2 separate regions of the Homo sapiens genome follow, and region 2 is linked to region 1. Evidence: fine-mapped expression QTL. A gene starts in region 1. The other region holds a variant in brackets. All regions are shown on one strand. Distances are between the middles of the regions. Region 1 holds the start of LINC01600 (long intergenic non-protein coding RNA 1600). Region 2 has its middle 27 kb from the start of LINC02521.

Region 1 (11,171 bases):
TTTGAAAATCTGCCCAGGGGATTCTCAGAGATAGCCGTGGTTGAGGGGACCACTGGCTAAGAGAAAGGATGAAAGCAAATGCAGGCGTTGATTCCTGAAACCTGGGGAATGCCTGCAGTGAGGGGGAAAAGGGTAACTTGGATTTCCTACTAAGTCTCTTTACTCCTTTGTCGTGCAGGTATTTGGATGCCCCACTGTCCCAAGACTATGGGATTATCTTCCTCCCACTGTCATTCATATTTACACCTCTGTGGATGGGTGAAGCATTAATACAGACTTTCAGTGAACTGAACTGAGCAGTTAAAAACAAAGCCGGATGAATGACAAGATGTGAAAAGAAGCAATCCCTTCAGATTCTTTTATCTTGCTTGCTTTAAATGTTCAAACACCCAAACAGGCTGATAAATTAAGATTTCATGGAAAGCTGTGCGTAGCTTTCAGCCACAGCAATAGTCCGAGGTTCTAGTTCTCTGGTGCCAATAATAAAATCATTTCAAATGCAAATAAAAAGTCAGTGTTGAAAATGACCAGTTTAGAAAAATTGTGCTATAGTTACCAGCTCTCATACAAACAGTGCCTGAGAAAGTCAGATCGCAGTCTATAAACAGGCTATATTTAGATGACTTCCAATCCCAGTGTGTTCCCAGACCTGGTCAGAGCTAGGCAGCTTCCCACTTGGTCATTTTTGTCCAACAGGGTCTTGTCCCCTTGTAATCTGTGAATCCTCCCTTTTCCCAGGCTCCCAGGGAGACCGTCGTGTGGTTGCCCATCCTGCAGAGCCCCACCCAAGCAGGACGGCTGCCAGCCCCTGGGCAGTGCTGGACCTCGGGCTGTGAGTTCAGCTGAGCTGCGTGATCCAGATGAGCTGCAGATTGTCCACAGGCTGCCACCCAGACGCTGGGTCACAGGGGCTCCCCCTGTGCTTTATTGAGACTGGTCAGCCCTCCGCCACTCCTAAGAAAGAAGATCCTTGACAGGTCCTCGACTTCTTCTCCATCACTGGGCCATGGTGTGTCCAGATTTTGGAAAGAGAGAAAAGAGAAAAAAAAAAGTCCATCCACCATCTCAAACGTGTCTGCACCTCGCTTGCAGGTGGACAAAAAGCTCCTGTGAGGTTTCCGTTTTTGGCATGTCATCTCTCTAGAGACATGGTCCCTCTAAATGAGGAGGTGATCTGGACCCCTGCTGGACCGAGGCAGCTCCCCACTTTGCCGAGGCCTAAACAAACCCAAACAGGACATGCAAGATCAACAAATGCCAACCAGCCACACAGCTGAAGCAGAAACGCAGAAAGCTGTGCACCAGGAAGAAGCGTGACCTTCAAGAATCTGCCCTCGCGTATACAAGCGACATTGGTCCTGCCTGACATGACAAACACACAACCCCCCACACACAAACACACAAACACACACACATGCACACAGACATATACACACACACAGAGACGGACATACAACCGTGGTATAAAAACACACACACACCCAGGCTGCCCCTGAGGCTGCGGGGTTCTGCGGCTGCCAGGAAGCCCCTCTGGGAAGAGAGCAGCCCATGGCCATACAGGCAGGCCAGCCCTCGAAGTCACAGTGGGACGATCTCAGGGGAGACTCATCCACACATCACCTAGGCAGGACTGAGACAGGGATCCCGCAGTGCATCACTGGGGCTCTGATTGACGTTTGTTCATCCTGGTCGGCCCTCTGCGACTCCTAAGATCCCAGGACCATCCCGGCGACACCCTGGAAAAAACAGGCCACAGCAGCACGACACTGAGGCACTGCCACAGAAGGCTCCTGCTGTGCTGATCCTCAGGAACTCACCCTCAGGCAGCGGAAGCAGGCGCTGTGACCAGGCTCTCTAGCAGGTGGAGTGAGTGTGTGTCTCCGAGGAGGTATAGAGCCATTCCAAGACTGACGACCCCCTCACCAATAAAGTGAAGGAAAGGCCAAGCACACCTGAGGACCCCAAGAGGGCCACACTGGGGTCCAAGCCACCTTCAGGGATGCCTGCCAGAAGACCCAAGACGTTCCTGTGATGTGCCAGCCACTCCCACCCCTATGCTGGTGACAGCACACACACCCTCAGCTGCAGCAGGCCAACCCTCAGTCCACTTGGCTCAGTGAAATCCGTGGCAGTCAGAAGACTTAGTGCTGGGAGGCAGTCCCACCCGGGAGCAGAGGGGCTGGATATCCCTCAAGAGTGGCGAAGGCACTGTAGATGCCAGGAAACTCCACCTTTCTTAGAAGGCAAAGGCCAGCCACGCTTGGCTACCGCTCATCCTATAGGGTCATGCCGCCGTCTGCTTGAACCCTGGAGACCAAGGGAATGTCTGTGTGGGCGACAGGTATGGAAACCCAGAGCTCCAGGATCCTCCCACCTGCCCAACCATGCAGAGAGAGGTTTGGAGAAGGAAAAAAAGATCCCGGATGAACTGGGAAATGTGGCTGGTTGAAGACTCTGAGCCAGATCAAGAAAAATTGAGGCCCAGCAGGAACATGGAAGACAGAAAAAGGGTGAGGGCAGTGTAGACAGAAAAAGAGCAAGGCAGAACGCAGCAAGGCCACTGCCGTGTGGAGCTGGGAATGAGTGCCCAACCGGCGGCCTAGCCAGAAAGGCCACAGTTGGAGGAAAAGAGATCCTTGCCAAGTTCTCAGCTTCTTCTCCATCGTTGGGCCATGATGTGGCTAGATTTTGCAAGGAGAGGAAAAGGGGAAAAGGAGTTCCATCCACCACCTTGGACATCTGTCTGAACCTTTCTTGAAGCTGGACAGGCAGCTCCTCTGGGGTTTTGGTTCTTGCGTGTGTCATATTCCCTCTAGAGAAGTGACCCCTTGGGATGGGGAGGTGATTTGGACCTTCACCCAACGGACGCAGCTCCCCACTTTGCCACGGCCTAAAGAAATTTTTTTTTTTTTAGATGGAGACTCACTCTGTCACCAGGCTGGGGTGCAGTGGCGCAATCTTGGCTCACGGCAACCTCTGTCTCCTGAGTTCAAGTGATTCTCTTGCCTCAGCCTCCCGAGTAGCTGGGATTACAAGCACGCACCATCATGCCCAGCTAATTTTTGTATTTTCAATAGAGACGGGGTTTCACCATGTTGGCCAGGATGGTCTTGATCTCCTGACCTCGTGATCCGCCCACCTCAACCTCCCAAAGTGCTGGGATTACAGGCGTGAGCCACCACACCCGGCTGGCCTAAAGACATTTTAATGGGAAGCACACGATAAACAAATATTAACCAGCCACACAGCACGAGTGGAAACGCAGGGAGCAGAGCATCAGAAAGAAGGCTGGCTTGAAAGAATCCGCCCTTGAGTATACAAGACACATTGGTCCTGCCAAACACCCCCCACCCCCGCACGCGCACACACACACACACACACACACACACACACACAGAAACACACACACCCAAACGGACATATAACCGTGGCACAGGAACACACACATACCCAAGCTGCCCCTGAGGCTGTGGAGTCCTGCTGCCGCAAGCAAGTTCCTCTGGGAAGAAAGCAGCTCACGGCCACACAGGCAGGCTGGCCCTCGAGGTCACAGCGGGGAGAATCTCTGGGATACTCATTCACATACTGTCTAGGCAGGCCCGAGGCAGGGATCCCACGGCGCCTCCCCAGGGCTTTGCTTGACCTCGGGGATTCAGGGTGTCTTTCCTCTACCGGCTCCCAATCTCCCTCTAGGTGGTGAGGGCTGGCAGGGCCGTTTGTGGGGGGCAGAGCAGAAAGAAGAAGTATAGTAGAGGTTGTGACTCCCTGGGAAGGTGAGGGCTCATGTGAGCCTATACTGAGTAGATACACTGAGTAGATTCTGACTAAGGACGTCCACGAAGTTATGTTCTTTCCTGAGATGCCACAAAAAGTCATCACCAGTCTGTAAAACTCCCAGGCAGAGGGTGTGATCGTCACATTAATCAAAAAGCAGGCAGCTCTACCACCTCGTACTCATCAGGATGGCCTCTGTCAAAAATCCAGAAACAACAACGTTGGGGAGGACGTGGAGAAAGTGGGCCCTTCGGAACCGCGGGTGGGACGGAAAAGCTGTGCGGCCGCGCGGAAATCTGTACAGTGGCTCCTCCAAAAATTAAACGGAATCACCACGTTATCCAGCAATCCTCTTCCGGGTATATATCCAAAGGAATCGAAAGCAGGGTCTCAAGGAGTTACGTGTACACCCGTGTTCACAGAAGTGTTATTCACATTAGGCAGAAGGTGGAAACAACCCAAGCGTCCATGGATCCATGGACAGATCAATGGATAAGCAAGACGTGATGGGTGCGTATGATGGAACGCGACTCACCTTAACAGGGAGGGAAACCCTGACACGCTACAACGTGCATGAGCCTGGGGGACATCCTGCTAAGTGTAGTAATCCTGTGATAAAAAGGATAAACGTTGTGTGAGGTTCCTAGTGGTCAAATTCACAAAGACAGCAACTGGAACGGGGGAGAGAAGATGGGGAGTTGGTGTGTAGTGGGGCCAGAGTTTCCATCTAGGAAGAGGAGAAAGTCCCGGAGATGGATGACGGTGATGGTTGCATAGTAATGTGAATGTACTTAATGCCATTGAACTGCACACTTAAAAAAGGTTAAGAGGGTCCATTTTATGTTAGGTGTATCTTAGCAGAACTAAAGCAAAACAGAAGGCAGTGTTAAAAACAGTGGATGACGAGCTCTCAAGGTGGTGGAGGCCATCGCCCACTTCACTTGGGGGACCCCTGCTCTCAGAAGCACACACTTCACGGGGTCACCTGGTGTTCATGCCGGCGACCTTTCTCTCCCTGCCTGTGGCCTGGCCCCAGGTCAGCATTCACCAGGTGGGGAGAGTCTGTGCAGCGCGGCGTGGGCCTTGCACGCTCCTTTTTGTGTTTGTTTGGGTTCTACTTTTCCGGACTGCGACACTTATAACTTCATTAGAAAATATCACTTTCTTCAGACCCACACATTCATTTATTAGGCACTTACGCTCCATAAAATGAAATGCACAGCAAGGCCGCTTTCATGCTTCCTTGAAGTTCTATCAACTTATTTTGGGGGCAGATTTGACCTGTCAGAGCACTTCCTCCGTGGGAGCTCCATATCTAAATATGTGCATATATAGTTTTCTACTTTACTGACGGTAGCTTTCATAAAGCCGCTTGAAGTACTTACTAAAAATCCATCTTAAGACTCTTTCTGCATTTTGGGAGGCCGAGGCGGGTGGATCACCTGAGGTCAGGAGTTTGAGACCAGCCTGGCCAACATGGTGAAACCCGGTCTCTACTAAAAAATACAAAAAATAGTCGGGCATGGTGGCGGGTGCCTGTAATCCCAGCTCCGTACTCCAGAGGCTGAGGCAGAAGAATCGCTTGAACCCAGGAAGCAGAGGTTGCAGTGAGCCAAGGTCGCGCCATTGCACTCCAGCCTGGGTAACAAGAGTGAAACTCTGTCTCAAAAAAAAAAAAAAAAATCTTCCCCACACATAATGTGGCAGGACAGGAAACACTAGGATTCCTCCAGTTTATGGGGAGATTGGGAGAGCTGAGGCTTCACAATGACACAGCCGGGTATGGAAAACACCAAAAGAAATATGCCTTTTTGGATGACAATACTCCACCCCAATTTCCAAGTATGCTACAACTTTTCCTCAGCCTCGATGGGAGGTATTTACAGTGAGTGGTAGAAGCTTTACTGCAATGCCCTGGTAGACACAGGCTCCACCAGGCTTGGCTTCTACACTCTCACTGGGTCTATGGATGAGCACAGAAGCCAGGTTTCTGGCTCACAGAGAACCTAAGTGCTGAGTTTATATATAAAGTGCACAGTGTGAATAATTAAATATGAAAACGTGTACACACCAAACAGGACATTTTTACTTAATGCCAAAGAAGCACAAACGACCCTTTCTTTTGGGAGTTTCACAAGCATTTCTGCTCAACAGTAATCCCCCAGTGACAGTGATAGTAGTGGTTTCAATATTTTGTTTATAAAAAGCAACATTATAAAATGCCCTGAAAGGTCTTGGCTTCTTTTGTGAGCTCTGAACTATTCAGAAATTCAGCTTGCTATCTGGGGACAACAAATAAATCCCTACTCTAAAAAAATGGGATTCGGGTTTTTCTCCTGTGCTGCTTCCTGGCCTTAACGCTTCCTGGGGACTTACCGTCATTTGCTCAGTTACGGTTTCTATGGGATGAGTGGGGAAGCCGCGTGGTGAGGAAGCCTGGCTCGCACCCGGCCTGCGCTCTCTCGGGCCTGGCCGCATCGGCCACCAGGGGGCAGTGTTGTCATTCGCTGGCGACGCCGCCCCGCCCCGAGCGGATGCCACCCCGTTTCCAGCCTCCGGTGCTCACCGTAAGCTCTGTTATTATTATCTTTTGATTTATAAAGCGCCGTTCCTCAGCAGATTCCCCGCCCCCCAGCTGCTTCCGAGAAAGCTCGCAGAAGCGTTCGTGCGCAGGCGCGGAAGCCCCGCACAGCACGCGGTGGGCCCGGTTCGGGGGGGCGCACGGCCTGGGGCGTCGGGAAGAGGCTGCGGGCAGCGGGGCCTGCGGGCGCGGCGTGGCGGGGCGGGAAAACGGCTCTGTCCCGTGGGGCGCAGGCAGGAACGTGTTCCCATAAAAGACACAGGGAAGACCAACCCTGGGCGTTAGCCATCCAAACCTTCCCTCCCGTGCGAAACCCGCTGCCCTGCGGCCAGGACTGTGAGGGAAGCGATGGGAGGAACCCGGGAGCCCGCGAAGGCCGGGCCCCAGAGTCCGGGCGCCCCTGAGCGGGGCGGAGGGGACAAATAGAACCTTTTTAAGGACAGCTGAAAGAGATTATAAGCGCGGTGTGCTGGGACTTTGGAAAGGGCGCGAGTCATTAGTGGGGGCGAATCAGAGGGGAGTATGTTGACGGGATAATAACAAAAATAAAGAGGCTTGATAAGAAAGACACGGCTTTTGGAGTCAAAGGGAAAATCCGGGACAATGAGGGTTGGCAGGTTCCTGGGACACAAACCAGGAAAAACAGGGCCACACCGGAGCGGCCTGCCTGGCTCCAGCACAGCCGGTGCAGAAGCTAATTTTGTTCCGAGTCCTCCTAGCTCAACAAACATGCCGCCATAGCACCTATTTTCTTTTAGGTAATGCTCACAACAACCTAGCAAAGTGGGGATCATCTTCACCACTGTACAGATGAAGAAATTGAAGGTCAGACATTCAAGGTTATGTGGCCACATGAGAGAAATACCAGAGCTGGGATGAAGACTCAACGGCTCTCAGACACCAGGTTGCTTCTTGAGAGAAGCCGGATGGATGTGCATGCAGGGAGGTGAGCCTCAAAGCAGGTCCAGCTTTCTCCCGTGAGTGTTCCAGTGGCTTAGGGTTAGGGTTAGGGTCCAGAGGAGGAGAGGCGTCCAGAGCTGGGGCCGTCTGCGTTTTGCCTTGCTGTCCCAGAGTGGCAGCGAGGAGTGGCCTGGCCTAGAGGGTCTTTGTCTTATCTTGTGACTTGCTGTTTCTCCTCTGTCTGCAGGAGCTGGGGGAGGTTGGAGAAGCCGCAGCCCAGAAGGGGAGGGAGGACACCATGTCAGAGCTTGCTGGAGCAAGCTTTGGAGGAAGGCCACAGGGGACATTGTCACCAAGGGCCACGGCAGCGTGCACCCTGGGTTAGAGAAAGGGGCAAATTATGGATATGAAAAATGCTTCCCTCAATGAAAAGGACCCTGCTGAGACAGGATGGCTGTGGGCCAAATACCCCTACAGTGCCTGATTCTTTTATCTTATTATTTATTTAAACAAGACCAGCATTTTGCTTTAGATAGAAAATCTCTCTCTGCTACAAAATTGCAAGCCCTGGGAAAAGTCTCCAAGAATGGCTGATGCCACAGTCAAACAATAACATACATGTCGGGGTGAAACAGTGCACAGAGGATGAAAAAAGGGAAAAGCTCGAGGCCCCGGGAGGAAGGAGCTGGGAGGGTGGAGGGCGTGGAGGTGTGAGGGCCCAGAGGGATTGCCCAGGAAGGTATGGAGGACCGAAAATGGATCACCAGCCCTCATGGACAACTTAAACTAAAGGTGGAAAAGACAGAAAAGCTGGCAGGGGGAATTGTCTCCAGCCAACCTGTCAACTTTTGGAAAAAGATGGATCACAAAGAATGGGAAGTGGAAGAGAAGGAGAGGAGAAACCAAGAATAAAGAGCAGACGCTGTGGGCAGAGCTGTGGGGCGCCCATGCTGGCAGAGCTGGGTTCTAGGGCCCTGGTTTCGGCTGTGTAACCGCTTGCCCAGCCCTCATCTCATCCCTCAACAATGAGGGCCTGGCAAGGGAGGGTATGCTGGCCTATTTTTGTCTCATGTATTTGTGGACTCTGTCCAGAAGCTCTGAGATGCCAAGTTAAAATGGAGAAGGTTTGAGTCACCGCCACCTGGCCAGAGCCTCAGTGAGTGGGACGCCAGGGCTGGGGTCGGGGGCTGCAGAGTTGCTGTTGATTCACGCGGCTTCTCTGGGGTCTGGATCTCAGTTTGGCTGTGAGGCTAAGCCCTGAATGGGTGCATAGCAACGTTATTCTGGAGTGCTAACAGCCTACCCTTGCCACCCACGTCTTAGAGACATTAGAAAGTTGGGTACAACATTCCCCACCTCCCTCTGATTTTTCTGGAGTAGACTGTGATGAGGAGATGGTCAGTCTCCAATAAAGTCAGCACCTTCCATGAAAAATGACTTTCCCTGAAAGTTGTTTTGGAGTGTTAAAGAAAAATATCTTCAAAATTCTTTACCACTTTTTGAGCCCGATTCCAGATGTTTGGCATATCCTAAATTATCCACTTTAAGCTTTGATAATCCTAGGAGGTAGATACTGTTATTCCCGTTCCGCAGATGCAGAAACTGAGGCCCTCATTAATGCTGGGACCACTCATGGTCACAGCTGGTGGTGGTGGAATTGGGATTTGAAGTCAGATCTCTGACTCAGAACTTGGGTACTTCTTTCATGTTTCCTTTTCCTCCTTTATTCAAAGTAGCTTAATTGCTTTTGTAAAATAAACGTGAACATCACCCCAACTGCCGCCGTCCAGGGATAACCAGGAACAGTTTAATGAATGTCCTTCAAGACCTCTCTCTCTTGCATTAACTTGAATTCAAGCTTGTCAATACCCAGATTATTCCTTCTTGAAAGTCGGTCCTATGCATTTAATTGAATTGAAGTTGGTGGCTTTTCCTGCTCTTGACATTTGCCTGAGTTGGCCTCGGGATTCTGTAAAGGAAGCGCCTTCTGGGCTGCAGTTTTCTCTTTCCCTACTCCCCGTGGTGTCTGCTCCTCACCTCAGTCAGATAAGACCTTGGTCCTCCTTTCCATGCCCCCAGAAAGGACCCAACTAGCTCTTCCAAAGATGTGCTTGGAATTCCCGGACAGCTAAGGGATCAGCTGCCAGGACGGGGCTGTTGCACGGTTGGCGTGTGGGGGCCAGTGTTCCGTGGAAGGTGCCTAGAGATGGGCCGCCTCCTCCATCTTCCCCAGGCCTCCTTCACCTGTGGGCAGGAGATGTTTGTGACGTTCCTTCCGGTCAGCAGGACTTCAGGAAGAGCCGCCGCTAAGCCTGGGGGCAGGACTAGCCAGGCTCCCTACTGAGGCCTTCTCATGTTCCTGACAAGGCCGAGGGTAAGCTTACTCACCCATTTTCCACCTGCGGAAATGGGTTCATAAGTTCAAACATGCACAGCTGCTGGTGGGTGTCAGGATTTGGGATCTGGGCTCAGAGCCTGCATTCACATCACAACATCACCACACTTCCCTGCTTCCCTTGGCCACATCTCCATCACATCTGAAGGGTTTTGTGTTCAAGGAGTCTTTTAAAAATAACAATTTTTGACCAGGAAGAATTAGGACTGAGCAAGACTTAGTCATAACAAACAGACAGACACATCCACGCTCCACACCCTGGGCTATGTAGATGTGGCCTACCCCCTTCTTTTTGAAGTGCCTGTAAATAAATAAACCTGTGCCAAGCTGAGCTCAAAATTGAGTGGTTTACCCACGTTTGACATCCAGCGCAACCTGTGAAAGCTGTTTTGTTTTTATTATTGTGCAAAAAGTGTTCTAATTACAATATGCTTTTCTGAGTCAGAAGAGAACGGTAAACCATTTGGCTATGGAGTGATATTTGTGAAATCCCACTGGAAGAGATTATAAGCTGATTTTAATGCACTTTTACTAATGGTTTAATAATCCTAAGGAGAACTGACTGAGCCCTCATAATGAATGAAGAATTTTGATGGCAGGATCCGTAAATGCTGATGTTAGAGAAGGTCAATGGATTAGTGAGTCAGATGCTTCCAGGGGCTTGTATGAGTCAGGAAAAACAGGTCATGCTGTGGAAACAAACCCCAAGGTCTCAGTGACGTAAGAAAAGTTTACCTCTTGCTCATTAAAGGCTGGGTCAGGCAGCTCTCCAGGCCAACTCTCCTCGGGTGAGCGGGATCCTTGCCACTTCCATCTTGTAGCTGGGCCGTCTGGAGCCCCTGGCTTCCAGCATTGCTAAAGTGAGGGAGAGAGGGTGAGAGGACTGGCGGGAAGGTCTAAGACCATATTCTAATGTATAAACTAGAATGTATACATTCTACTGTATAAATTTATTCTACCCAAGAGGGACAAGGGCTGCTTAAGAGCTGCTGTGCAGGTCAGATAGAGTCATCACACCTTTATGTTGTGTCTTCATTTTCTCTCAAATACATTAACATATTTTTTTAGAATAGTTTCAGAATTTTCGAAGCAAAACTGGAGTCTGTGATGGTAAGCACTTGTCATTGGATTTAGGGTCCACTCTGATCCAAGATGATCTCATCTCCAATCCCCAACTTAATTATGTCTGCAAAGACTCCAAATATCATCACATTCACAGGTTATGGGTGGATGTATTTTTTTTGCGGGGGGACACTATTCAACCCACTACAACCACCGTCTAGAAAGGACAGATGTTAGCATCCTATCCTAGGTGACCCAGGTATTTTTCATAACAAAATTCAACATTCGAGAGAGGATGAGAAGTATAGTTTGAGGACTTGGCTCATGCCATTGTGGGGCTGGCAAGTTCCCACAGTGCAGGTTTAGCTGGCAGGCTGGGGACTTAGGGAAGTTGTCTTTGAGTCTAAAGACCATCTGCTGGGAACATTCCCTCTGGCTCAAGGAAGGTCAGTCTTTTCC
Region 2 (11,171 bases), 28 kb after region 1:
TACCCTGGGACCCTCAGTGTAAGCCTACCACCGGGCAGAGAACGTGTGCTCAATGTTTATCAGAAGAATACATGGTCCAGGATGAAAATAATACCTAACACTACTTAGCACATAGCAGAAACTTCACAAAAAGTATGCCATTCAATCAAATCCCTATGTAACTGATATTATTATTATCCTTATTTTTAAATGAAGGGGCTGAGATAAAAAAGGTTAGATAAGTAGTCCAAGCTCATGCAGAGAGTAAGTGGCAAGTCGAGATTTGAACCCAAGCAGGGTAGCAGAGCAGATATGGGTGTAGGCACTGAAACCGGACAGCCTTGGGTATGTTCAGCTCTGGGCAGGGCTAGGCACAGTGGCTCACGCCTGTAATCCCAGCACTTTAGGAGGCTGAAGTGGGAGGATTGCTTGAGGCCAGGAGTTCAAGGCCAGCCTGGGCAACATAGAGAGACCTTGTCTGTACAAAAAATTTAAAAATTGGCTGGGTGTGATGGTACATACCTGTATTCCTAGCTACTTGGGAGGCTGAGTCGGGAAGATTGCTTGAGCCCAAGACTCCAAGGCTGCTGTGAGCTGTGAGCCCTGCTCACGCCACTGCACTCCAGCCTGGGCGACAGAGTAAGACCCTGTCTCAAAACAAACAAACAAACAACCTCTGGGCAAGGTGTCATGCTTTGGTCTTCTCATCTGTAAAATGGGAATAGTAACAGTCCCTGCCAGAGGTTATTATAAGGGTTAAATGAATTAGTCCAAATAAAAGTCATGGAACAGAATTTGGAACACAATGAGGGCTCCATAAATGTTAACTACGATCATTACAAAGACAAAGCTTGTAAAGAAGGTCCCACAATCACTAGATGAGGAAACATGTGAAGCCACTTTGTATGTCTAATGTGCATAGAAATGTAAATTGTCACTATTATTCTTCTTAATCATGATTGTCATCACATATCAGTAAGTGGCACAGGAACTTGTCCGCTATGATCAGGAGAATGCAGTTTACAAAATCCAGAACTAAAACTGTAAATGTACCTATAACACTTGGAGAAGGGGAGAGAGCTGATCTCAAACTAATTGATGTTAGTTTAGGGGGATTTGGTTTCTTGAGTTGATGCCTATTTCCTACCAATACGTTGGACACAGAATGACAACTGGGTAGAAATCCAGTTTCCTAGTCCCCCACACCACTCAGCTGGTCCACACGAAGCCAGCTGGACTGAGGGTGGAGATTTCTTGGTACCATTTACCAGACTCTGAGACACTCCTCAGAAGGAAGTTAAGATATGAAAACATTGACAGTGATGAATCACTTGCTGGCCAGGCTGCAGCAGCAATGCTGGGATTCAGAGCAATCACTGCCACCTGGAGCCTCATGAGAGGACATTGCTTGTGTTGCTCCAGAGCCCTATTATGGTCATTTACTAACATTTGCAAAGCTGTAAGTGAAAAAGTTATCAAGGGAATGAGAAGACATGCCACAGACTGTGAGAACATACTTGCAAAAGACACATCTGAGAAAGGACTGGTATCCAAAATAGACAAAGACTCTTAAAACTCAACAATAAGAAAACAACTCAATTAGAAAATGAGCCAAGAGACCTAGCAGATCCCTCACCAAAGAAGGTATACAGATGGCAAATAACTGTATGGAAAGATGCCCCACATCACAGTCATCAGGGAAATGCAAATTAAAACTATGAAATACCAGCACACAGCCGTTAGAATGGCCAACATCAAATGGTGAGAATGTGGAGCAACAGGAACCCTCATTCATTGCTGGTGGGAACGCAAAACAGTACGACCACATTAGGAGACAGTTTGGCAGTTTCTTACAAAACTAACATACCCTTATTATATAATCCAGTAATCATGCTACTTGGTATTTACCCAAAGGAGTTAAAAACTTATGTCCACACAAAAACCTGCACACAGATATTTATGGCAGCTTTATTCATAATTGCTCAAACTTGGAATCAACCAAGATGTTCTTTAGTGGGTGAATGGATAAATAAACTGTGGTACATCCAGACAATGGAATATTATTCACACTAAAGAGAAATGAGCTAATAAGCCATGAAAAGACATAGAGGAGCCTTAAGTACATGCTGCTAGTTAAAAGAAGCCAATCTGAGAAGGCTCCATACTGTGACTCTAACTATGTGTCATTCTGGAAAAGGCAAAACTATGAAGACAGTAAAAATATCAGTGGTTGCCAGGAGTTAGGGGGAGGGAGGGATGAATAGGTGGAGCACAGAGGATTTTTAGAGCAGTGCGACTACTCTGTATGATACCGTAATAGTGGATGATATCATTATACATTGGTCCAAATACCAAGAGTGAACCTAATGTGAACGATGGACTCTGGGTGGTGATGATGTGTGAATATGGGTGGGTTCATTGACTGTGACATGTATGCCACTCTGGTGAGGGTGTTGATCACTGGGAGGCTGTGCAGAGGGTATATTGGAAATCTCGTCACCTTCCTCTCTATTTTGCCATGGCCCTAAAACTGCTTTAAAAAATTAAAGTCTTAAAGAAGACTATGTAACTTTGTAATTCTACGTCCAGTATCTGTTTAGTAGAAACAGTGGGAAAGGAAGCACATGTGTGGATAATCCTGGAGAAAATGGAAAGAACCCAAGAAACCTGGACTTGGCCAAAGAAAGATGGAGCCCAAGAGTTTGAGCCCAAAGAAAATAACAAAACAATCAAGGACGAAATTTACCTTCAAAGCTCAGACTGAAAACGAAAACGCCCAACGTTCAACCTTGTTTTTTGTTTTCTTTTCTCAAGGCAGATCCCAGTCAGTGTATTTGCTTCTACAAAGCAACATATGAGGTTTGACAAGCAAGAACCCATTGTTAGGAGTGACGGCTCATGGAGAACACTGAAACTACACTGCTGTTATTCTGACATTTTTAATGCCACTGCTTTTCTTTCAATCCTCAGACATGTATTCATCATATTAAGAGTTCAACATATCAGATCTCCCGGCAGCAATGGTAAGAGTGTGGGCAGTAAAATTTGGCAAACTAAAGGGAAAAAATGTATCTTTCACCATTCAAAGAAACACCACAGCAGCTCGACATTAGATTTATGGAGTTACCCTACCTGCTTTTCCCCAAAACTTAATGAAACTTTTCATAGGTCTTTCCAACACACAAGAAGCTGTTAAGAATTCATGGTCTATTTCGCCTCTCAGAGAGCCTAACAATACATATTCCCTTTTACATTGAATGTTGAGTGTTTTACTTTTCTCCACATTCATCCTCTCTCCAAAACTAAACCCTCTGCCCCTCCTGTGGCTGGAAGTGTCTGCTCTATGGGTGACCTCTCAGCTACAGCCTCAGTCTCCTATGGCCTCCTCCTCTTCCTGCGTTTTATGGATAGTCTGTCTGTTCTATTTTTTTAAATGCTGCATAGGAAAATCTACATCTGACCCCATCCTTCCAATGATTGCCTAGTTCCTTTTAACAAAACTTTTATAAGAGCGTCTATTCCATGCCATCTCAAGAAATCTGTCTTTGATTCACCTCATCCTTCAGCACACCAGACAGGTGTTGGTGTTTTGGCTTATATTTATTCTACGCCTATTTTCTCTCTAGTCTTGTGTGAGTCTGGGTGTCCCTCTAGCCTGCCCAGATGACTACTATCATTCCAAAGGAATAATATTGCCCCTGCTGTTGCCCCAGATTTTCTAGTGCCATGCTACATATACAGTAAATCAGTCAGACATTAGGTTGATAATTCCCATGGGCAGGCAGGCAGGCAGTCTCTTCCATTCACTGCTGTACCCCTAGCACAGTAAAGGGCACATGGTACACCCTTGACAAACCAATAAACGACTAGAGACATGGGTACTCCATGAGCACATACAAAGAGACTACTAGGTCACAGAGCTGTGTGATGAGCTCTGGGTTCTAAGCCAATTTTTACTGGATGCCAAAACAATCATTCCGTTTAATCAAAAACTCAGCTAAGTAAATAAAGTAGCTTTGGATGATAACTCAAAGTATAAAATAAATAACCACGAACTCATACGGATATCAACAAATGATTGAAAAAATAAATGAATTGAAGAAAAGAGACAAATGTTCTGTGCAGAAAATTTCAAATAATTTCTGTAGATACTCTGCCCTCAAGGATGGGGAGTATTAACTCCCCACCCCATAAATGTGGGCTGCAGATAATGACTTCCTTCCAAAGAGCACAGTATGGAAAGTGGGGACATAGAGGAACTTTTCCTCTAGGTGAATGTATTTGTCGAATAAATTTTTGGAAAAAGAAGTTTGGGTCAAAGGGCATTTGCATTTATAATTTTAGTAGGTATTGCCAAATTCCCATAGAAATTGAAACCAATATATGTTCCCATCAGCTTTTTTTTTTTTTTTTTTTTTTTGAGATGGAGTTTCATTCTGTTGCCAGGCTGGAGTGCAGTGGCATGATCTCGGCTCACTGCAACCTCCACCTCCCGGGTTCAAGCGATTCTCCTGTCTCAGCTTCCCAAGTAGCTGGGACTACAGGTGTGCACCACCACGCTCAGCTAATTTTTGTATTTTTAGTAGAGGTGGGATTTCACCATGTTAGATAGGATAGTCTCGATCTCTTGACCTCATCATGAGCCCGCCTTGGCCTCCCAAAGTGCTGGGCCCTTCAGCTTTTAATAAATGTCTTTCCTCTACTCCATTGCCACCAGCATATTAACCTGTTAGGTTTGTTTTTTTTTTTTAAACAACCTGGGAGTTGGAAAATGAAATCTCAGTATAGTTTAATTTGCATTTTAATTATCATGAGTGAGGCTGAGTATCTTCTCACCTATCTAAACTTCTGTGATCTTGTCTGGAAAGTGTCATTTTCCCAATAGTTGGTCTTTTTTCAATTGACTGTGGGAGCTATTTAGGTATCAGGTATTCTTTGACGTTGTATGAATTAACAAGTACTTTCCCCATTTGTTGCCTTACAAAGGCCACTATAACATGGAATTTAGATGTATTGCCAACTGACTGTGTTGGATCCATTTAAACACTTTGTTTTTATAATTAAAAGCCGTTGGTAACACATACTGTTTCATCTCCTGAAATGACTTGAAGAACCATATATTGAGATATAAATATAAATGTTATTTTGATTCTTTTGGTAGCAAATAAGTAGGATTCACCCCCCCACCCTGCTCTATTTTGTAGAAGTTTTATTAAATGCCTATAATCCTATTCATTAATTATAAAAATAGAATAACAGATAAATTTAAATATTTGCTCTACATAAACCTATTTTGAATACTCTGGCAAGATCTAAAGCTTGTTTACTAAAAAGCCTTGGTAAAACCAACAAATTATACATACCTCATGAATATAGTTTTCAAGAGTTTTTTGCTCCACAAAAAAAGATCTGCTATTAGGATTTAATAAAATTTTACTGAAAAATATATACTGCCCTTTCTGGGATTAAGCAAGCACCTGGCTGCTGGCTGACACTTCAGGGGACATCAGCATCAGCTCTGTTCTCCGATGTTGTGTGTGGCTGGGCCTCCACCCCAGAGCTTTGCAGATACACAGTTCAACAGCGATGTT[C/T]CCAGTAGCTCGACACCAGAAAGGGACAGTGATGGGGCCTGTTCCGTCACATCACGGCATCTCACCTGCCCTCCTGCTCTCTACCTGCATCGAGGAGTCTCAGAGAATCCCACATGACATGAACCTTGAAGCCTCAGGGGTAGGCCCTCCAGCCCCTGAGCAGAGGCCGCAGAGTTAACGTTTTGAAAGTGGTTTTCTGTTGCTAAAAAATGTGTGGTTTATCACAGCCCTAAAAAATGTCCAATGATTGGGATTATCCCCCTTCTCCTTTCCTGTGTGCCTTCAATTAGCTGAATGAAAGCAAACCCGTGGCTTTAGAACCTGAAATAGCTGGAGAAAAGTGATGCAGATTTCAGGCGAGATGAAAGAGTGGAACCCAGAAGCCTAATTAAAAGCAACTGAGAAACCAGTATTTGATACGGCGTTCACTCACCTGAAAAAATAAACCAAGAGCTCCAGCAAGCTTTGCTGGAGGGTTGTCGGAGAGGGGCTGAGACGTTGCACTCAGGTCACAGGAAGGCCCGACTCGCAGGACACAGAGCCTCACTATTTCTTTCCTCTTGGAGTCAGGGGAAGGTCAGCCAGCCCGCCGAGGCCACCAGCCCGGCCTGCTTGACAATAGCCAGTTAGCCAGCAAAACTTTCCTCCAAGGTGGCAAGGGTGACAGCTATCCATCCCCAAACGCATTGCTTTTTTAAAAATCTTGAAATGTGCATGATTTGTTCAACATCACTTTCCCCCTGATTTTCCCTGCTTCTTTTTCTTCTCACACTTCTCTTCCTCCTGCTTTTACTACTCCCCATGTCATCTTTCTTAAATGCAGGGCATTTCTGTACATTCAGCTTATGGTTTGTTTTTGATGGCAGAAACTATCAAGGACTCACTGAAAGAATTAGTCCTCCTTTACCAAGAGGAAAATTCTCTTGGTTTTGAGATAAATCAAGGCCCAAGGTCAGTCAAGGGAGGAAATAAATAAATGAGCCTCTCTTTCATACATTGCATATTTTTAAACCTACAAATCAGCCCCCCGAATGGAATGCTGGCATATAAAAGCAGCATTTGGGATCCCGCTAAATGCAACTGCCATCACGTCCAAGATTTTAGTTGGAGGCAAGAAAAAGGACTTAATTTTAATTGCTGGGGGAGACGTCCTTCATTCTTTTCCTTTCCAAGTTTGATATTCATGACCTTGGGTAGGATGGGAGGTGGGGAATGTGGAAAGATGGATATGGGGTCGCGGTGGTTTTATTACTGTAAGTAACTGAAACAACAGCCCCGTTTTTGGAACAGTCTGTTCAGGAAGCAGAGACTAGATGCTTCCCCCTCAGTGGGGTCACAGTTGGCTTTTCTTGACTTCACGCGTTGTCGGATGGGATCCACAGTGAACTGAGGTTATCAACACCGAATAGCAGCTACCATTTCACATTGCAGGATGCACTTCAGAAACCACACACCAGCGCGAGGATCTCACATGGACATTACTGTTGTTATCTCTTAAATGCTTTGGGAACACCAAGGACCTCTCACTTTGTTGGGTATTGTAGAGAGGTTTTATAGGAAGTGATGAAAATATGGCCTTTGTCTGTAAGGAGTCAACCATCTTAAAGTAACATGTTTATATAAACACAAACATTCACCGTTGTTCCCAGAGTTCACTTAGGTTGGTCATCTTCCTTCCTTCCCTTCCTTCCTTCCCTTCCCTTCCCTTCCCTCCTTCCCTCCCTCCCTCCCTTCCTTCATTCCTTCCCTCCTTCCTTCCTTCCTCCTTCCCTCTTTCCTACTGTTTCTCTGCCTCTCTGTGTATTTTCTTCTTTTCTTTTCTTTCTTTCTTTCTTTCTTTCTTTCTTTCTTTCTTTCTTTCTTTCTTTCTTTCTTCCTTTCTTTCTTTCTTCTTTCTTCCTTTCTTCTCTCTTCTCTTTGTGTCTCTCTCTTTCTCTTTGCCTCTCCTTCCCTCCCTCCTTCCTTCCTTCCTTCTTTCTTTCTTCTTCTCTTTCTTTCTTTCTTTTCTCCTCCATTCTGCTTCTATCTTTCCTGACCTGGTTTCCCATCATGAAACTTCTCTGCCTTAAGCTTAGGGCCAGCATTTAAAGATCACCCTCTGTACAGTACAAGAGGCTATTTGCTTTGCCAAATGATTTCTTGCTTCTGTTTACTTTGGGGACCTCACAGACAGATTTAATCAATTGCATTTATCAGTATAATCTGTTCAAGGCTCCTCTCCTGCTGTATTGTTTTCCCTTTTACCCCTGATTTCCTGGCTATCCCCCTGCTTCTACCCCCAGACCCAGTGTAAGGTGTTTTATACAAGTCCTCAAATAACCAAATAATCATGGATTTTTTTACATAACATATTGGGCTGTTTTGTATGTGTATGTGCTTTAATTTACATAAAGGGCATTATGGTGTACATTGCATTCTTTTTCTTACTTTTCCCACACGTTCTGTCCATGTTGATGCAGAGAACATCACAGTGCACACAGGCCACATGGGCCTCTGCCGTCACTCCACATGCATGGCAGTGGCTGGCTATGGGAAGGGACTTCCTTCTAGAGAGACAAGATGGAGAAATCAGAATTATTGGTCCCAATTGGGCCAGCTACATAAAACAGCAGGTGATATGAGGGCAATCTGTGTAATTTTTTTTTTTTTTTTTTTGAGACAGAGTCTCGCTCTGTTGCCCAGGCTGGAGCGCAGTGGTGCGATCTCGGCTCACTGCAAGCTCCGCCTCCTGGGTTCACACCATTCTCCTGCCTCAGCCTCCAGAGTAGCTGGGACTACAGGCGCCCCCCACCACGCCCGGCTAATTTTTTGTATTTTTAGTAGAGACGGGGTTTCACGGTGTTAGCCAGGATGGTCTCCATCTCCTGACCTCGTGATCCGCCTGCCTCTGCCTCCCAAAGTGCTGGGATTACAGGCGTGAGCCACCGTGTCCAGCCCAATCTGTGTCCTTGAATAAATGTATCACCCTGGTGGGAGCTAACTGAATGCACTTGGGACCCCTGCCACATGCCCATGTGGCTCCCCGGAATTCCCTTCACGGCAGGTGCCACAGGCGTAATTATACCATTATTGTGGTGCTCATTGGTGAACATCTGAGAGCTCCTAGCGGACGGGTCTATGTTCCCTGGTTCACTGCTGCATTCCCAGGGCCTGGCTTAGCGCCAGGCTGATGTGGGAGAATCACTGGAAGCCAGGAGGCACAGGTTGCAGTGAGCCGAGATCATGCCACTGCACTCTAGCCTGGGCAACAGAGTGAGACTCCGTCTCAAAAATAAACAAATAAATAAAAACAAAAACAAAAGAGGTGACACTAACTACTCATAAGTCATAAGGTTGTTTCAAGGATTCTTTGCAGCCTTTTATGCCACTCTGGCTGAGTGTTGCCATTTTTTATTGGGCCCCCAAAGTGGGAGTCTTTGTCCTTAGATTCTGACATCCCTCCAAGCATGACACCCCATTTACATGATGCCTTCTTTTAGTTCCCCAGTGTCCCCTTTTCTCCAGCAACCGGAGGTGTACAATGTTGCCCCCAAAAGATCCTTTCCAGTAGACCATCATCAGCACCCCTGACTCCCCCTCACTCTGGTCTTGCTGAAGCTCTCTCCTGGGAAAGGTGGATTCTCCGATCAACTCTACAGGGAGTTTAAAAGGGCAAGCTCTGTGGTGACCACCTCCGGGCTTATTTCCTTGGGATGAACTTCAGGAAGTGAATTGTTGGCCAAAGAATCTGTCTTTTACATACTGCTTGCAATAGCTCTTTATATTTAAGGACGCTGGTTCTGTATCTGGAATACATATGGCAGGTATTTTTCTGCTTTGTGAAGTGACATTTCATTTTGCTCAGGAGATTTATGGAATTTATCACATGCAGTCAGAGATACTGGTAATTTAGTTTACAATCCCCGACTTCAATGTTGTTTTTAGAAAGGGCCGTTCAAACACCCAAATTATATAAATATTTAGCTAAATTTCTTCTACTACTTGTAAGGTCTCATTTTTAACACTTTATCTCTTTAATCCATCTGGAATTTATTTTGATATTTGGAGTAAGGTAAAAAGCTTAATTTTTTCCAGATAGGTAAGTAGGTTTCCTGGTACATTTAATAATCTTTCCTTTCCTTGTTTATACGAAGCGCCAAAGTTATCTTATATTAAATAATGATATGCACTTGTGCCTGTTTCTGGATTTTTGAATGATCTTTCTAAATCTGCTCTGTCTCTTTTTACATTAACAGAAACCTGTTTTAACTATGTAGCAAAATACACATTAATATGTAATAATAAAAATACACTCATCATCATTTTCAGGTATTGTTATTAATTTTTCTTAGTTATTCCTCCCAAATTATTCCTCAAGTTTAAATTTGTAATCACTTTTTAAAGTTAAAGAAAATATTGGGGTTGTGATGGAGATTGCATTAACACTTTACGTTCCATTTGAGGATAATTTACATGGATGTACTATATCTTCTCACTCAGCAACATGATCTGCCTTTCCATTTTATTGCCTTTTTTTTTTTTTAATCTTAATAAAGTTCTTGGCCAGGCACAGTGGCTCACGTCTGTAATCTCAGCACTTTGGGAGGCCAAGGTGGGCAGATCACCTGAGGTCAGGAGTTCGAGACCAGCCTGACCAACATGGTGAAACCCTGTCTCTACTAAAAATACAACAATTGCCCGGGCACAGTGGTGGATGCCTGTAATCCCAGCTACTCAGGAGGCTGAGGCAGGAGAATCACTTGAACCTGGGAGGTGGAGGTTGCAGTGAGCCGAGATCGCGCCGCTGCACTCCAGCCTGGGTGACAAAGTGAGACTCAGTCTCATAAAATAACATAAAATAAAGTTTTTAAGGCTTTTTTCTAAATAAATACCTTCTATATTCCTCTTAAAATAAGTTTAATTTGTAGACAGTTCACATTTTTAAAGCTATTGTGAACATTTTGCAGTTCTGTTTAACATTTTCAACATATTTCTTTTTCATAACTCTCTGCTGCTAGATGCCTCATTACAAGAGCTAATTGTCCTAAAATATTTTAGGCAATGTTCGACTCATTTGTTAGTATCTGTGAATAGCTCTGAATTTCCTTATCCCTGAGGACAATTTTCTGTCACTTCACCAATATTTACTCCTCTGTCTTCACCCTGTTGCTTCTTGACAACAGTAAATAGGAGTGGTCAGCATGAGCCTCCTCTTCTTAACTTTGATAGAATTGGCTCTAACTGACACCATCAAGTATGATGTTGGCTGTTGGTTTGAAATATTCTTTATCATATTAAAGAAGTATCCAGTTTTGGCTTTCTGAAAGTTTTCATTCTGAAAGGATGTTGACTTTTACCAAATGCCTACAGTCTATCTGCTAAGACCCTTAATGGGGGCATCCTGTGTTCATCTGCTTTGATCAGAGACACAGATTGATTTGCTGCCATTAATCAGCCTTAAGTTCTAGAATAAACCCTACTTAAGCGTGAGTTTATGCATTGATATTCAAAGTTTAGATTTACTTATAGATTCTTTTCTTTTTTGCTCCTTCTGCCAGTAAAATTACCTGATGTGACTTTCCTATTTCTACATGTTTTTAAATTATTCATTATTATTATTCC

What was found. PIP is the estimated chance that this variant, and not a neighbour inherited with it, causes the effect.
Region 2: its variant is fine-mapped to the expression of LINC01600 in amygdala (GTEx, PIP 0.97).

Annotation. Positions count from the first base shown.
Region 1 is chr6:2,629,735-2,640,905 of GRCh38, reverse strand. It overlaps LINC01600 (long intergenic non-protein coding RNA 1600), which reads left to right and starts at 6,303. Exons shown (of 3, transcript NR_131168.1): 1 at 6,303-6,341; 2 at 7,114-7,301. It overlaps LINC02521 (long intergenic non-protein coding RNA 2521), which reads right to left and starts at 6,406. Exons shown (of 3, transcript NR_149119.1): 1 at 6,151-6,406; 2 at 3,451-3,969; 3 at 347-1,218. RefSeq lists an enhancer at 974-1,489.
Region 2 is chr6:2,601,433-2,612,603 of GRCh38, reverse strand. No RefSeq gene overlaps it. Among named protein-coding and RNA genes, the nearest start is that of LINC02521, 27 kb to the left of the region's middle. The variant C/T (reference allele first, on the strand shown) is at 5,571.